Regions from separate parts of the Homo sapiens genome. Here region 2 is linked to region 1. A link means that fine-mapping ties the variant in region 1 to the expression of a gene that starts in the linked region. Tissue or cell type: spinal cord. Region 1 holds a variant in brackets; the other region holds the start of a gene. All regions are shown on one strand. Distances are from middle to middle. Region 1 has its middle 18 kb from the start of LINP1. Region 2 holds the start of LINC00706 (long intergenic non-protein coding RNA 706).

The links. PIP is the estimated chance that this variant, and not a neighbour inherited with it, causes the effect.
Region 2: LINC00706 starts here. The variant in region 1 is fine-mapped to the expression of LINC00706 in spinal cord (GTEx, PIP above 0.99).

Annotation. Positions count from the first base shown.
Region 1 is chr10:6,754,129-6,757,044 of GRCh38, reverse strand. No RefSeq gene overlaps it. Among named protein-coding and RNA genes, the nearest start is that of LINP1, 18 kb to the right of the region's middle. The variant C/A (reference allele first, on the strand shown) is at 1,801.
Region 2 is chr10:6,777,622-6,780,537 of GRCh38, reverse strand. LINC00706 (long intergenic non-protein coding RNA 706) reads left to right here and starts at 1,358. Exons shown (of 2, transcript NR_108074.1): 1 at 1,358-1,427. LINC00707 (long intergenic non-protein coding RNA 707) reads right to left here and starts at 940. Exons shown (of 5, transcript NR_038291.1): 1 at 651-940.

The DNA.
Region 1 (2,916 bases):
CACCCCCACACTCCCAAAACTGTTCTTTCCCACTGAATTTCTATTAATAATTCCACATGTGAACTTTAATGAAAATGCATTCCATATGTTTCTGATGGATTTATACGTAATGCAGAAAATTATATGTAAGTTCCATTGAAGTCCAGGCAGTCTTCTGAACCTTTCCCCATGCCTCCTTCTCCTCCTTTAAAACAAGAAGTTCTATGGTTGCCAAGATTTCATTTAAGAATGAGCCCATAAAAAAGAACAAATTAATGGAATTCACAGCAACCTGGATGGAACTGGAGACTATTATTTTAAGTGAAGTAACTCAGGAATGGAAAACCAAACATCATGTGTTCTCACTCATAAGTGGGAGCTAAGCTATGAGGATGCAAAGGCATAAGAATGATATAAGGAACTTCGGGGACCTGAGAGAAGGCGTGGGAGGGGAGTGAGGGATAAAAAACTACACACTGAGTTCAGTGTATACTGCTTGGGTGATGGGTGCACAAAATCTCACAAATTACAACTGAAGAACTTACTCATGTAACCAAATACCACCTGTTCCCCAAAAACCTATGGAAATAAATTTATTTTTTTAAAAAAAGGAACCCAGTTTCCAAGTGGGCTTCCAAATGGGTCAGTTTACTCGGACCATCTCTGCTCCCACCCTGCAAGGAAATTGTGAACATGGCGCAAAGCAGCTCGTTTATTGTGGGTTCCTTTTTACTCTGCGAGTTCTCTGTCAGTGCCGTGCAGCTGTGTTTCTGTGAAAACAAGGGCACCAGAAAAGGAGAAAAACACTGTTTATGAGGCTGCTTAGATTGGTGAGTCATAGCATTTCAATAGCCCTGAGATATACACAGCTGACTACTTATGCAAATTTCAAACATCATGTTTGAACAAAAGGTTACATGGTAACATAACCTAGAGCCTTTATTACTAATGAAGCACTTATTTCCATTTGAATACAGAAATGTGTATTTTTTTTTCACTTTCTCTGGCTTCTCATAATTGTGTCTAATAATATAAAAAAAAATGGGTCTTTATCTCCACGAGGCATAGGCATCAGGCAGATTTCATGTTATTGCAGGCATTAGGGGAACATGCATCGCTCTGATTTCTCCCCACTTTTCAGTGCAGTTCCAAGATGCTAAGCCCCAGGTGCATCTTTGAAATGAGAAATTTCATTAACTTTTTTCACTTCCGAGGGCTGGCTGTTCTTTAGGCGTGGTTTTAAAATTAATAGTAATAATAATAATAAAGGAAGATGATTTTTAAAACTTAGCCATGTTCGGTTTTATTATCAATTATGTAAGACAAACTTGGCAAGATTAATAGCAGCTTTCTACCTATCAGAGTGGTTTGTATTTTGGTACAATACAGAAAGTTAGAATTGACAAGAGGGAGAATTTCTTAATGAGATCTATATTTCCAGAGGTGGGCCTTAATGCCACAGTGAATTTTGTTTTAATAAATAAGATAAATGAGACAGACAGTTGAATATGTAAATAGGAAGACAAGTGACTTGAGTAAACCGTAAGAATCAGTGAAAACTTGAGTTCGCACCAGTGTGTTTACACACACACACACACACACACCTTCTCTTATTTGAATTAACCACTGTCAAAGACTGTAGTGACACAGATCAAATGTCAAACAATGTAGCCCAAGCCCAGCCCCCTTCTTTCAAATCTAAATTTAGCAAATATCTTTCAATATTACACTTTTCTCCTTTGAAACTTGAAGGCTTTGGGCATTTAAGAATCAGTGTTTCAGCTGCAATGCTTCTGAGAGGAAGGGAGATTTTCAAAGAGC[C/A]TTTGTCAGCCCAGGAGTGAGTGAGTTAATCCATCCACCTGCCCCAACTGAGAGCAGAAGACACTGTTTATAGGACTGAAGACAGAGGTGCTGGGTGCAAGGACTGAGACTAAGAATGGAAATGCGAGAACCAGGATTCAGGGGTAAGTTGGTGGGTTTGGACCCAGTAAAAAAAAAATTTAGGGACCTCTCCAAAAATGCAGATGGGCTGAAAGACTTCAGAGTGCATTGCCTGGGACCTCCTCCCCCACTGTCAGCACTGGCAGTCCTAGTTACCTGGCTGTCTTCTCAGCTACCCCTTAGGCTCTAGGAAGCCTCTGGTTTAGAGTGTATGAGCACTTCAGCATCCCCCATCCTGACCCCGGCTTCAACAATTCTTGTCCTAGAAGGAGATGGGAAAAAGAGCTCAGCCTCTGTGTGGCTCATTGACTTGAGCATGGGCGCTGTGATAGTCTGTCGTACAAATCAACTTGTCTGGGCCATGGGTGCCCACATATTTGGTCAAACATTATATGAGTGTGTCCATAAGGGCATTTTCAATGAAATTAACATTGAATCAGTAGACTGAGTAAGGTGATTGCCCTCCCAGTCTGGGTGTTCCTCATCCAATCAGATGAAGGCCTGACTAGAGCAACAGGCTGAATAGGAAAGAATTCTCTGTCTCTGCCCTTGAACCGGGGCAACAGATTTTTCCTGCTTTGGGACTCAAACAGAAACAGCAGGTCTTCTTGGGTCTCAAGCCTGACAGCCTTCAGATTGAAACCACACATCGGCTCTCCTGGGTCTCCACCGTGCCGACTGCTGATCTTGAACTTGGCCTCCATAATCATGTGAGCCAATTCCTTATAAATACATTTACTTACATGCACGCACACACACACGTGCACACACACACACATGCACACACACGAACATGCACGCACATATACACATCATGCACACATACAAGCACACACAAAAACATGTGTGCACATGTATACACATACATGCACACACACATACATGCACATATATACATCCTATCAGTTCTATTTTCCTGGAGAACTCTAACCAATACAGGTGTCCAAAAGACAAAAAAAATAAAAAAGCATGTGATCTTTACTACTAGAAAAATGG
Region 2 (2,916 bases), 23 kb before region 1:
TGTCAGGAAACCTAGATTCTCTCTCTCTGTTCTTCTTTCAGTTTCCTATGGTCTTCTCTGTGTGCAAATGACTGGCAAGCCTAGGAAAGGTACCAGCCTTGCGTTAACTTAACCCTTGGCTCTGCCTCAGCCTTCTTAATTAGGAATGAGTATACTACAAAGGTGGGTAAGAAATGAAGTGGTGATGGCTGGTGGGGCTACTCAGTGAAGGCACAATCATGTCTTCCCCAGTGCTTTCTTCAAGGTCATAGAAGGACCCAAACACTAAACCAATCTTCTTCTTCAGGTGTTTCTCAGGGCTGGTGGTTCTTGGCAACTATGAGTTGCAGTTGGCCTCAAAGCCCTAAGATGCACCTGTTGCGTGTATGTATTTCAGGTTGAATCTCATACATGACAGATTCTGGAAGGCTTAACAAAGTCAGTGCTGGATAAAGGCAGCATGATGATACTGACTTTTCTGAAATTTTTTGTTGGTTATGGCCAATAATTAATATAAACCGTTCTCTTGCATTTAAGCCTGACTTAACTACTTCTGAGTTTTATTGTGGGATATAAAAATTAAAAATATTGTATTAGCATTCTCTAGAAGGACAGGACTAATAGGATAGATGCATATATGAAAGGGAGTTTATTAAGGAGTATTGACTCACATGATCACAAGGTGAGGTCCCACAACAGGCCATCTGCAAGTTGAGGAGCAAGAAAGCCAGTAAAGTCCCAAAACCTCAAAAGTAGGAAAGCTGATAATGCAGCCCTCAGTCTGTAGCCGAAGGCCTGAGAGCCCCTGGCAAACCACTCGGGGGGTAGGTCCAAGAGTCCAAAAGCTGAAGAACCTGGAGTCTGATGTTTGAGGGCAGGAGGCATCCAACACAGGGGAAAGATGAAGGTCAGAAGACTCAGGCAGTCTAGTCCTTCCACGTTCCTCTGCCTGCTTTATTTTAGCCACACTGGCAGCTGAGCTGGCAGCTGGGTGCCCACCCAGATTGAGGGTGGGTCTGCCTCTCCCAGTCCAGTGACTCAAGTGTTAATCTCCTTTGGCAACACCCTCACAGACACCCCGGGGCAATACATTGCATCCTTCAATCCAATCAAGTTGACACTCAATATTAACCATCACAAATAGTAAGCAAAAATGATAATTTTTACCATTATTATCTCAAAATTATGAAAGCTTTTATCTATAGCACTTCCAGTTTTTTAAAAGTGAGATTCATAAGACTGTGTTTACCCACCACACTGAATGCTACTGTCATGACTTGGCATGAAAAATAGCCACCCACTCAGAGTCCAGGAACACTGTGCCCTCCCCTGTGACGTCAACCTGCCTGGTTTATTCAGTGTGTGGCTGTTGCTCAGCATTCACCCAACAACATTTTTGATGCATGATGCATATGGTGCTAAATGCTGGGAATGCAAACCTGAGTAAGGTATTGTCCTAATTCCTGCCTAACGGTTTTCTGGGTTTCACTGGCTATGATTTCTGATCCCTCCCTCCCTCCCTCCCTCCCTCCTTCCCTCCCTCTCTTCCTTCCTTCCTTCCTCCCTCCCTCTCTCCTTCCTTTCTTCCATTTTTTTCTTCCTTCCTCCCTCTCTTCTTCCTTCCATTTCCTTCTTTCCCTCCCTCCTTCCCTGCCTTCCTTCCTTCCTTCTTCATTCTCTCCCTCCCTCCCACCCTCTTTCTTTCTTCCTTCCTTCCTTCATCACTCCCTCCCTCCTTCCTTCCTTCCTTTCTTCCTTCCTTCCTCCCTCTCTCCTTCCTTCCTTCCATTTCCTTCTTTCCTTCCTTCCCTCCCTCCCTTCCCTCCTTCCTTTCTTCCTTCTCTCTCTCCCTCCCCCCCCCCACCTACCTTCCTTCCTTCCTTCCTTCCTTTCTTCCTTTCTTCCTTCCCTCCCTTGTTTCTTAACCATTGCTTGTTAAGGGATGGCTCTGCACTGAATTCTGGTAATCACCGTGCTTTTCTTTTACTAAAGGTGGAACACAGGGGTGAATCGTTTAGGGCAACTAAGGGTATGTGGGAGAGGTTGATGCTTTCCCTCTCACAGGTGAGTCTCAAGCCTCCAAGGAAATGACAGAAATGCTTACAGATGGTTTTAGGCAGTGGTGCCTTATGGGGGGGTAAGTTTTTGCTTTCTTTTCCTAAGAAAAGAACAATCCAATCTGATTGCTTCCCAGTGTTTTGGAATTGGATTTGTGTTTTGCAGTGATGAACCTGGCCTTAAGGTAGGTGCGGGGTGAGCCCATTAGAGATAAAAGGTAAAACCAGAAATCCAGTGGACAGCCATCTGAAACCCGTTCAGCCTGAAGCACTTTTTTCTAGACTCAAGAGCATCGTTGTATCAATAGAAAAGGGCAAAGATGGTGAAACAAAGTCATGTATATCCATCCATGTGCTTTCTCAAGCTTTTTATGGGTATTTTCTACAACTTAGATGTGCCTTGTCCTCACCAAAACCCATGTGGAAGTTTCATTGCAAGAGACAGTGTTGGGAAGTGGGGCCCAGTGGGAGGTGTTTGGGTCATAGGGGTGGATTCCTCACGATAAATTGGTGCCGTTCTCAGGATAGTGAGTGAGTTCTTACTCTTGCAAGACTGGATTAGTTCTTGCAGAGATGGATTAGTTCCCTCAAGAGTAGGTTGGTATAAAACATGTCACCCTCCTTGGTCCCTTCCTTTTCACACATGCCTACCCCAGTTTTGACCTTCTGTTATGTTATGACACAGCAGGAAAGCCCTGGCCAGAAGCCAGCGCCATGCCCTTGAAATTTCCCACCTGCAGAACCATGAGCTCAATAGACCTCATTTCTTTCTAAACGACCCAGTCTCAGATACTCTGTTATAGCAACACTAAATTGACTAAGACAGTGTTATTTTGTAGAAGTAATGTAATCCCTCTGAAAAGAACATGGGATTCAGAGA